Linked DNA regions of Homo sapiens. The protein of the gene in region 1 interacts with the protein of each later gene in a biochemical or structural test. Each region holds a gene or a part of one and is shown on either strand. Other genes may lie near its edges.

Evidence for each region.
Region 2: the proteins of PPP2R5C (region 1) and CIP2A form a complex in vitro, tested with the Homo sapiens proteins (one study listed by BioGRID).
Region 3: of the proteins of PPP2R5C (region 1) and MBP, one has a biochemical effect on the other in vitro, tested with the Homo sapiens proteins (one study listed by BioGRID).

What each region holds. Positions count from the first base shown.
Region 1 is NC_000014.9:101,759,630-101,763,382, reverse strand, and holds the start of PPP2R5C (serine/threonine-protein phosphatase 2A 56 kDa regulatory subunit gamma isoform), read right to left. Parts: upstream 1,675-3,753; 5' UTR 1,490-1,674; coding exon 1,463-1,489; intron 1,014-1,462; exon of another isoform or gene 987-1,013; intron 479-986; coding exon 413-478; intron 1-412.
Region 2 is NC_000003.12:108,568,788-108,572,540, forward strand, and holds part of CIP2A (protein CIP2A), read right to left. Parts: intron 821-3,753; coding exon 602-820; intron 1-601.
Region 3 is NC_000018.10:77,126,103-77,129,855, forward strand, and holds part of MBP (Golli-MBP), read right to left. Parts: exon of another isoform or gene 2,258-3,753; intron 1,547-2,257; exon of another isoform or gene 1-1,546. UniProt on the Homo sapiens protein: The classic group of MBP isoforms (isoform 4-isoform 14) are with PLP the most abundant protein components of the myelin membrane in the CNS. They have a role in both its formation and stabilization.

The DNA.
Region 1 (3,753 bases):
TGGGTGTGGTGGCATGTTCCTGTGGTCCCAGCTACTTGGGAGGCTGAGGTAAGAGGATCACTTGAGCCTGGGCGGCAAGGGGTAGCAGTGAGCAGAGATTGCGCCACTGCACTCCAGCCTGCGTGACAAAGTGAGACCCCGTCTCAAAAAAATAAAAAACAAAAAAAACCCCAAAAGACCCACAAACAAACCCCATAGGCAAGCACAATTTTCATAAAATCATTAATAGTTTTCCAAAGCAAAACAGTAAATACCTAAACAACTAAAATTGAGGGTTATAAAAGACACCACAAAAAAAAAACCTCACATAGGGAAACATTTTAGAAGATTCTAGGCTTTATCACTCTCGGTTTTTCTACCTGAAGTTAAAAGCTGTGTATAAAATACAAAGTCAATATTTGATGACAGTTACCTCTGATTCTACTGTGTCTTGTCCTTCTTTTGAACTTTTTCCACTCTTCCCTGCTTTTGGTGATTCCTGGTAAACATCAAGCAAAGTCAATTAGTCTTCTCACTTTTTAGACAGGTAAACATCAGATAAGCCAAATGCAGTTTTAAAAGTGATTTATACAACTACAGCTTCTGATATTTTTAATTCATACCATTAGGAAATTCTATATCATACCGTTTAGGATTCCAACAGTGCAATGCCCCCCAACCCCCATTCAGATTCTTTTCGTTTTATCTGCATTTGAGGTTGAAAACTTCAAGCAGAAAACAGATAAATCCAATTTTATACAGTGCTTCTGGCATTTTGAGATCCACATCACATCCCTTTCTACCCTCCCACCCTAAACCCTATGAGTGAGGATTTCTGGGGTGATAATGAAACGCTACAGAGCTCCACCTGAAGCAGAAACATACCCGCCCCCCCGAATGCAAACGCAGCACCCTTGCTCGCAGCCCTCACCGCCGCCGCCACCCAGGATAATAATAGTGTTCGAGAGCCCCAGAGCGTCCCTCCGGGGCGGCAGAGAATTCCTTACCAGCTCTCAGCGGGGTCCCTTCTCGCTCCCTTTCCCCCGTACAGGGGTCCCTCCCCAGGCGTCTACAGCCCCCATCCCTGAAGCTCCTTTCCGGGAGCCTGCGAGGCTGCGAACCCCCTCGGCGGCCGCACCTGCCCGCCCAAGCCCACGGCGCGCTGTCGGAAACGGGCGCCCCTCCGACCCCCTCCCCGGGCCGCGCCCTCCCTCCACGCCCAGCCCCGGCCCATCACGAAGGTCCCAGCGGCCCGGGCCTGCGCCCCGCGGCTCCGGCGCGATCCCCGGGCTCCCCGCCCCCACCGGGCATGAGGCCGAGAGAAGCCCGGGGATGCCTGGCTCGGCCGCCCTCGGGGACGCGAAGCCCGCGGCGTCAGGCGGGGAACTGAGCCGGGGCCCGGGCGCAGGACCCCGGTGCCGTCGCGCCCTCCCCCGGCAGTCCCTCCCTGCTCCCTCCGTCCCGCGGCCGGGCCCGGACTCACTTTCTCCTTCTTGTTTTTATTCGGCATGGCTGGAGCGGGCCGCCGCCGCCGCCGCCGCCCCTGCCGCCGCCTGCCCCCGCAGCAGCAGCGCCCCCGCCCCGGCCGTCGCGCCCCCGCGGCCGCCGCCGCCGCCGCCGCCCGGGGACTGAGTCTTTCGCTTGCTCTCGCTTCCCCTTTTCCAGACTCCCAGAGGCTGCGGCAGCCACGGCGGCGGCGGCGGCGGCGGCGGCGGCAGCGGCGGCGTCTCTCCGCCCCTCCCCCGGCCGGCCCGCCCCGCCCCTCTCCTCCCACCCCCCGGCCGGCCGCCCCGCCCCGCCCGCCGCTCGCCCCACCCCCGCGCCCGGCCCCGCCCCGCTGCACTCAACAGCGCCCTGCCATTGGTCGACGCGCCCCCACGTACCCTAACGCTCCCCGCTCCCCCCACCCTCTCCGCGCGACCCGTTCACGCCCCCGCCCTCCGTCCCGAGTCGCTGCGAGCCGGCCTCAGGCAGGCCGCGGCCTCCTGGCGCGGGGCTGACCGCTGAGCAGAGCTGAGCCGACTCAGGGGAGGGAGCATGTGGCTGCGACTGCGGTGACAGGGCCGTGGCCCGCTGTGGAGGCGCAAGACAGAGCGTGAGACGTAGGAAATGCACATTTGAAATGTATGGCAACAACTTCTGCAGCCGGCGAAACGCGAACCGTGGCCTCTTGGCCTTGCCCCCTCACCGCCGCGGCTCTCGTTGCAGTCAAGAGTGCCTGGCACGCTTTGCACTGAGGCGCACGGGGAGGCCCGGGAACCGAGCGAGCGGCAGTTTCGCGGGACACCGCTGGGCCCCGCCTCCCCTCCCTTCCCTCCCCTCCCCTTCCCTCCTCTCCCTCCACTCCCCTCCCCTCCGTCCCCTCCCCTCGACCACCCCGTCCCCTGCCCTCCCCTTCTCTCGACCAGCCCGTCCCCTGCCCTCCCCTCCCCTCCCCTCGACCAGCCCGTCCCCTCCCCTCCTCTTCCCTCGGCCAGCCCCTCCCCTCGGCCAGCCCTTCCCCTCGACCAACCCCTCTCCTCGACCGGCCCCTCCCCTCGACCGGCCCCTCCCCTTGGCCGGGCCCTCCCCTTGACCGGCCCCTCCCCTCGACCGGCCCCTCCCCTCGGCCGGCCCCTTCCCTCGGCCAGCCCCTCCCCTCGACCAGCCCCTCCCCTCGACCAGCCCCTCCCCTCACCAGCTCAGCTTTCCGCAGCTCCTCCCGCGAGGTCCCGCCCATCCGACAGCCCGCCCCTCCCTGGTTGGTCCCGCCCTCCGCAGTTTCTCCCGCAAGGTCCCGCCTACCCGACAGTCCCGTCCTTTCCTGGTTGGTCCCGCCCTCCGCAGCTTTTGCCGCGAGGTCCCACCCACCCGACAGCCCCGCCCCTCTCCAGTCGGCCCCGCCCTCCGCAGCTCCTTCCGCGAGGTCACGCCCACATGCGCAGCCCCTCTCCTCCGGCGTCGGCCCCGCCCACCGAGGCGAGGCCTCAAAGACTTGGTGGCCGCTGCGCCAATAGGATTTTATTTTTATTCTTTAATTTGGCTTGATCATAAATGGTGAGGAAACCTCTGCATGACTGGGAGTCACCTGATTTCTCTCAGCTTGTTAATAGCTGTGAGGAGAGGGTGTCCAAGGGAAAAACGTTAACTTTTCAATACAATACTTCCGCGGTCCACCTCGTGCCCAAAACTATTGAAGACGCTAAGGACAGGCGTCCCAGATTGCAGAAATGCATTAGGTAGTAAGACTCTAGGAGCGTACGGATTTCACGTGCGAGAGGCATTGGTGCTTCACCTGTGATGATGAAGGAGCTGCATCTTAACTGGCAGCTTAAAAATCATCGCGTTCTCTTAGCCCCCGGAGTTTTGTTCTTGGAAGTTTCCAGGCAAAGCATTTTCCATTATTCTCAGCAGTTCTGCAATGAGAAAGCTGAAAGACGGGGTAAGAAAAAAAAGATCTAAAGGGAGGAATGTTGTGGGAGGTCCAGAAAGTAAGTTCTGTCTGCGGGTATCTGAATGTCTGCCGGCTCTTAGACGAATATCTGTAGGTAAGCAGGACAGTCTCAACTATTTGTGCGGAATAAGTGGCTTTTTTATTAATAATTTAAGTGGGTTAATGGTGTCTCCAAAACAATTTTGAGGATAGAGCGATGCCCCTAGTTAACTTAATAACATTTTAAAAATAAAATATGTGCTGTCAATTTAATAAGTCCAGGATATATCCATATCAAAAAGGAGTAGCTCTGAAACTATTGGTTTATGGCCATGAACTCTTAGGGAGGCTTAGAGGCATCT
Region 2 (3,753 bases), on another chromosome or scaffold:
CATATTTAATCACTTCATACACATATTTGTTTGTGTGTAAGACCCAGTTATGTGAAGGGAAATACTTTCAGGAGATATTGGGTTAGACAGAATGGATTTATAAACAGGGAGAATAGTAGAGAATATTAAATTGCCCAGATAGTAAGATCTACCAGAATGTGGAGTTTTGTCTGTATCTTAAGTGCCTAGCACATTATCTGGCATGCTCTACTCCATTTCACTGACTGAATCCAATATGCCTCTATTGTCCATTCAATGGCCTACTAAACTTGGTAGATGGCATCTATTGCAATGGAGAGACAATGTAACTATCCCCAGTAGTCAGGCAACAAATTATATAAATCTTTTTAATATCTTTACTTATTACACTGAAATGAGCACTATATATATATATACATACACACTACTCAGTGAAAAAAAAGGAAAACACTAATATATATGACTGGCAGAAAAAAACCTAGCGAGTCTAGTATGACTGTTAGTAATTGAGATGTTTTCCTCAAGTGTATGAACTGTAAGTTTACAAAGAATGTTTTTGAAGACAAATTGTTAACTGAGAGTCACAAAAGTAGAAAAGTCAATCTGTCAGTCATCCTATTACCTCAAATATTTCCTTGAACAACTCCAATGCTAAAACAGAACAGTTTTCTGATCCGTCCAAAGGTTGGCTTAACCAGCGCAGTAGAGCCACAGTAGGTTCTAAACATTTAGTATGGCTTCCCAGAGTGGCGCTGCCAGGTGGAGACTGTTCAAACATCATCTGAGTGAGCATATGGCGCAGCTGAGTCACTGAACAGAAGGCAAGAAGTAATTCTAAAACCTGTGCAATATAAAGTGTTCATTAAACATCAATTTCACAGAACTTTAATATACAAAGCAAGTGTATGATGAAGCTGAAAATGCTACATATTTTAAAGAAAATATTCTAAAACAAAACTTAAGTTTTTTCTTTCAATATTATTTTTCAAATGTGTGAATAGGTTCTAGAAGATTATAAAATAAACTTATTAATGGTGGTTACTCCTGATAAGCAGGACTGTGAGAACCTCAGAGGGAAGGTCAACTTCAGCCAACGTTAAACTCCTCCCACTCCTTCCATAGTACTTAAATTATTTTTAAACAGAAACCTGTTTTGTTTATAAATGACCAAAAAAACCCTAAAAAATAAAATTAGAATTAGTAATACTTGTTATAATCCTAAAATTCAATAACCGCTATAAAGGATACTGTAGCATAGAATATAAAACCTTCAGGATGGTTATTTCCACACTGTTTGCATACGGTTGGCATTATGACCCTTAGCTCTCCTACTGTACCCCATTTTTCCTCTACTTTATAAACTGGGCCTTATACCATAACATCCCCCATCAACCAGTTTATTAGATGTTAAGATAAATTCCACCTCATTTCACATACTACCAACTTATCACTAAAAAAAAAAAAATTTCTTAAGATCTCCTTGTCTCTCTATTTCCAACTTTTTAAAAGTCTGTTTCTTACAAATGATATATAATTGGGATTTGTGTTTTAATCAACTTGATAGTATCTGAATTTAAAAGAATCCAGTCCATTAGCATTTACTATAACAAATGATAATCTTTAATAAACTGTAGTACAGTCATGTGTCACTTAGTGATGCATATGTTGCTTAATGCATCATTAATTCCGTTGTGTGAACATCGTAAGAGTGTACTTACACAAACCTAGATGGTAGAGCCTACTACGTCCCTTTATTGCCCGTGGGCTACAAAACTGTACAGAATATTACTGTACTAAATACTGTAGGCAACTATAACACAATTGTAAGTACTTGTGTATCTAAACATAGAAAAATACAGTATAAAAGATCAAAAACGGTACACCTGTATAGGACACTTACCATAAACAAAACATGCAGGACTGGAAGTTGCTCTGGGTGAGTTAATGACTGAGTAGTGAGTGAATGTAAAGGCCTAGGACATTACTGTATATTGCTGTATATTTCATAAAGACTGTATGCTTAAGCTACACTATTTTTTAAAATTTCTCTAATAAATTAACCTTAGCTTAGCAGAACTTTTTAACTTTATAAACCTATCCATTTTTAAAGTTTTTGACTCTTTTGTAGTAAGAGAAACACACTGTACAGCTATACAAAAATACTTTATTTACATCTGTAGTCTATCAGTTTTTTCTATTTTTAAAATGTAGGCTTTTTCTTTTTAAACTTTTTTTGTTAAAAACAAAGACACAAACACAGACATTAGCCCAGGTCTACACAGGGCCAGGGTAATCAACACCACTTCCACCTCCACATGTTGTCCCACTGGAAGGTCTTCAGGGGCAGTAACACACAGGGAGCTGTCATCTCTAATAACAACAATACCTTCTTCTGGAATACCTCCTGAAAGACCTGCCTGGCTGTTTTACAGTTAACTTTTTTATAAGTAGAAGTACACTCTAAAATAACAAAGAATAAGTGGTAACACGTTTATCAAAATACTATGTACTGTATACAATCTTAATATGTGTTATAGTTTTATACAGCTGGCAGCTCAGTAGGTTTGTTTACACCAGCATCACCACAAACACATGTGATGCATTGCACCACCATGTTAGAATGGCCATAATGTCATAGGCAATAAGAAGTCTGTGTCTGTCATTGACTAAAATGTCATTATGTAATGCATGACTATATTTATTTTTGAATAGGTAATACATTCACATGGTTCAAAAGACAAACCCTGTAGGCAAGCAATGTTACCAATTGTTTGTGTATCTTACCATATGTCCGTTATAAACATAGAAGCAGATAGCTTTCCATGTACATTAGTTTTCTTTTAATGTACACATATAAAAGTAAAAAAACTAATTACTAGTGCAGAGCTAGATGACTTTCCCAAAATGAACATATTCCACTGTTAATGGCATTTGGGTTATCATTGTTAGCTATTAGGAGCAGTACTACATTTTGTACACATGTAAACAATTCTTTGGGATAAATACCTATAAGTGAGATTTCTGGGTCGTAGTTTATACATATGCCCAGTATTAATAGATACCAGTTTTCATAATTGGTTGTTCTGTAAGTACTAAATGAGAGTTAAAGTATGTTTGCTATTTTCCTTATTTTTCATTTTAATCAACTGGTGGGTGTCAGATGGTATGATACTACCATTTAAATCTGCATTTCCCTTAAGATTGATAAAGTGGTAAATCACTTCATGTTTATTGACCAATTCAACTTTTTTGCTCAAGTATCTGTTCGGCTCTGTGTTTTTTCGGATATATACATACAATGTAGAAAAATAATATATTTTGGATAAGAGTCCTTTGTTAGATATATGCATTGTAAATATCTATTCCCATTCTTTGACTTTTCATTCTTTTATTAGTGGTCTTTTCATAAATAGAAACTTAATTTTAATGTAGCCCAACTTATCGACTTTCTTACTGTATAGTTAGTGCTTTTGTTTCCTGTTTAAGAAAATCATTGTCTACCCCAAGGCCATGAAGATACTCTTTAGGTGTTTTTTCTAAAACGTTCCTTATTTTTACTCTTCACATTTAAATCTACAACCTGTCTTATACTGATTTTTGCATTTGGTATGAGGAAGGGGGTCAAATTTCAGTTTTTCCCCATATGTATATTCAATTGACCCAGCGTCATTTATTGAAATGACCATACTTTTAAGACTCTACTGTTGTCAATCTGAAGACCATATGCTGTGGGTTTGTTTCTGCTCCATTATGTTCCACTGGGCTGTCTATCAT
Region 3 (3,753 bases), on another chromosome or scaffold:
GCAAAGACTATACAAAAAATGAGAACTATAGATCAATATCTCACAAACACTTAGAGGCAAAAGTCCTCAACAAAATATTAGTAAAGTGAATCTAGCAACACATAAAAAAGTTATATACATGGCTAAGTGGAATATATATCAGATACTCAAGGGTGGGTCAGCATTAGAGAGTCAGTCAATCAACTATCCATCATACCATGAAGTCAAAGAAGAAAAATCTCATGAACATATAAATTGTCCCAGAAAAGACATTTGACAAAATACAACACACATTCATGAATAGACATGGACTATTGACTTGATAAAGAACATCCATAAAAATCCTATAGCTACATCATAATTGGTGGTAAAAACTCAGTGCTTTGCCCTTTAGGTCAGAATAAGGCAAGTTCTTGCAACTCTTATTGAATATAGCACTGGACATTCTAACCAGTACGGTAAGATAAGAAAAAGAAATAAAAAGTATATAAATTGGAAAGAAGAAATAAAACTATCCAATTTGCAGATAACATGATGATCTACATAGACAATCCCAAGAAATCTACCAAAAAAAATCCTCCTAGATCTAATAAGGCAGCTCAGTAGGTTGCAGAATGTGGACTGACACATAAAAATTACTCACAGTTCTACCTACTCCACAATAAACGTGGAAACTGAAGTTAAGACACAATGCCATTTAGAAATGCCCCAAAGAAAATAAAACACTTATGTACACTGTAAAGAAATTTCAGATTCAGAATCTGTGCACTGAAATTTATAAAACATTGATGAAAGAAGTTAAAGAAGACCTAATTACCCATAGAGAGACAACCTGTGATCATGGATTGGAAAACTCAACACAGTAGAACTATTAATTCTCCCTAATCTATACATTTGAAGAAATTCCTATCAAAATCCCAGCAAGGTTTTTGCACCCATAAACGCGCTATTCTAAAATTCATATGGAAAGGCCCAGAACCTACAATAGCTAACATAAGTTTTATAAAGAATAATAAAGTGGAAGGAAGTCACTCCACCTGATTAAAGTTGACTATGCAACTACAGTAATCAAGACAGTGTGCTCTTGGCAGAGAGACTGACATATAGACTAATGGAACAGAATAGAGAACCCAGAAATAGACCCACAGCAATAAGTGGAAACGGTTTTTAGCAAAGGTGCAAAAGCAATTTAATGGAAGAAGGATCACCTTTTCAACTAATAGTCCCGGAGCTATTGGACATTCGTTGGCAAAACCCAAACCAAACCAAAACAAATAAGCCTCAACCTAAACCTCACACCTCATACAAAAATTAACTCAAAATGGAAAATAGGCTTAAGTATAAAATGTGAAACTATAAAATTTGTAGGGAAAAAAGGAGAAAATCTTCGGGAACCTCAGGCTAGGTGAAGACTTAGACTTCACACCAAAAATCAAAATCCAAAAAAGGTAAAATTAATAAACTTGAATTCAACAAAATGTAAAACTTTCTGCAAAGGACTCTGTGAAGAGGGTGAAAAAACAAGATAAAGTGGTAGAAAATAATCACCGAGTGGTAAGGCCAGCATCTAGAAAATATAAAGAATTAGGAAAACTCAGTTGTTAAAACCAAACAATCCAATTAAAAAGTAGGCAAAAGACATGAACAGACTTTTCACTGAGGAGGATACACAGATGGCCATAAGTACATAAAAAGGTCTTGATGTCATTAGCCATCAGGACAATGCAAATTAAACCATCAGGAGATATCACTACACACTTATTAGAAGAGCTAAAATAATAAAAAAAAAAAATAGTGGCAATACCAAATGCTGCCCAGGCTGGGAAGGTCCTGAATCACTCACACACCGCCGGTGGGAATGCAAAATGGTGTAGCCATTCTGGAAAAGAGTTAGCAGTTTCTCATAAAATTAGACATGTGCTAACCATATGACTCAGCAATTGCACTCCTGGGCATTTATCCCAGAGAAATGAAAACTATGTTCACACAAAAACCTGTACAAGAATGTTCACAGCAGCTCTATTTGCAATAACCAAAACCTGGAAATAATCCAAGTGCCCTTCCTGGGTGAACGGTTGAACACACCTTGGTTCATCCAGATGACGGAACACCACTAAGTAATTAAAAAGAAACACCTATGGACATGCTTGCCAACCCGGATGGGTCTCAAGGGAATTGCGTTTAGCGGAAAAAGCCAGTCTCGAAAGGTTGCATAGTGTATGATTCCATTTATAGAGCATTCTTAAAGCGACAAAATTATAGAAAATAGGAACCATACTGTGGTTGCCAGCCTCAGGGAGGGGGAAGGAGGAAGTCAGCTTGGCTATAAAGAGTAGCATCAAGGATCCTGTGATGAAACTCTCCTGTCCTCTGATGTGTTGGTGGTCACATGGTTCTACATGGGTGATAAAATTACAGAGAACTAAGCGCACGTGCATACCACACACACACACACACACACACACACACAGAGCAGTCTATAAAATGAGTACATGTAAACTGGTGGAATCTGAAATCTGAACAAAGTTAATGGGTTGTATCAATGCTCATTTTCTAGTTGTGGCATTGTACTATGGTTTTGTAAGATGTTATTGTTGGGAGAAACTGGTGAAGGGAATTGCATGTGAATCTACATGATCTCAAAACAGGGTTTTACTACATTGCTTCAGTGAATATCCACTGTGTGTGTCTTATGCACACAGACCAGGTTTTCCCTAGAGGAGATACCTAGAAGTGGAATTGTTAGATCTTAGGATACACCCACCTTCACTTTTTCTAGATTATTCTCTAACATCTTTGTTCCTATTTACATTCTAGTCGAACTCATGTGAGGTCTAAGTTTTCTACACCTTCTCTAATATTTGGTATAGTCACAATTTAAATTTTTTTCCAGTACCGTAAAGGTAAAAAAAAATCTTTTTGCCATCTTAGTTTTGAATTCCCTGATTCCCAGAGGGTTAAAGTCCTTTTCTTATTTTATCAGTCCATCTGGGTTTTCTCATTAGTCTCATATTTTACTCTTGAGTGGCTTGTTTCAAATTACCACATTTTAGAACTGTTTCTGTATTCTAGATCCTGGCCTCACATAGGTCTGTTTCTCCTCATCTTTTAGATATCCACCTATTTTTCACAATGGTGACTCAGACCAACGCAGTGCTATTCACAGAGTCCAGAACAAAAGAACATTCGGAATGACATTTTTACGCTTTAATGGCTATTGAGTGTGAGACATTACTAATAGCTTTGGAACATGCACTCGTGGTTGTTGCTGGCATGTGGGAGATGTTGCTGTGGAAGGCAGCTTCAGTCGGCCGGGGAGATCAGCTGCCTTCTGGCTGGCCTGTCCTACAGACGTCCCACAAACCTGGCCAGCCCACCTCTGCATAAGCCATTCCTTGCCATGAGTCTCTAATGTGTATCTCCACCTGCTTCTGTTTCTCTGGATGAAGCCTGTCCACTACAGGTTTTGACAGAGATTTAAAATCTCCTGTAGAGACTATTCCAGCTACTCGCCTGGCATTTCTGCTCAGCTGGCATTAGGGCCTGTGGCATGAGCACTCTTCCCTTAAACAGCTCCAGAGCTTCCTTCACGGGTTCCAATGGGCCAACAGAAGTGTCTTACTACTTAATGGCCACTTATTTAAAATTATCCCAAGAGTAATTAGAGGCCAGGCGCGGTGGCTCATGCCTGTAATCCCAGCACTTTGGGAGGCCGAGGTGGGTGGATCACTTGAGGTCAGGAGTTTGAGACCAGCCTGGCCAACATGGTGAGGC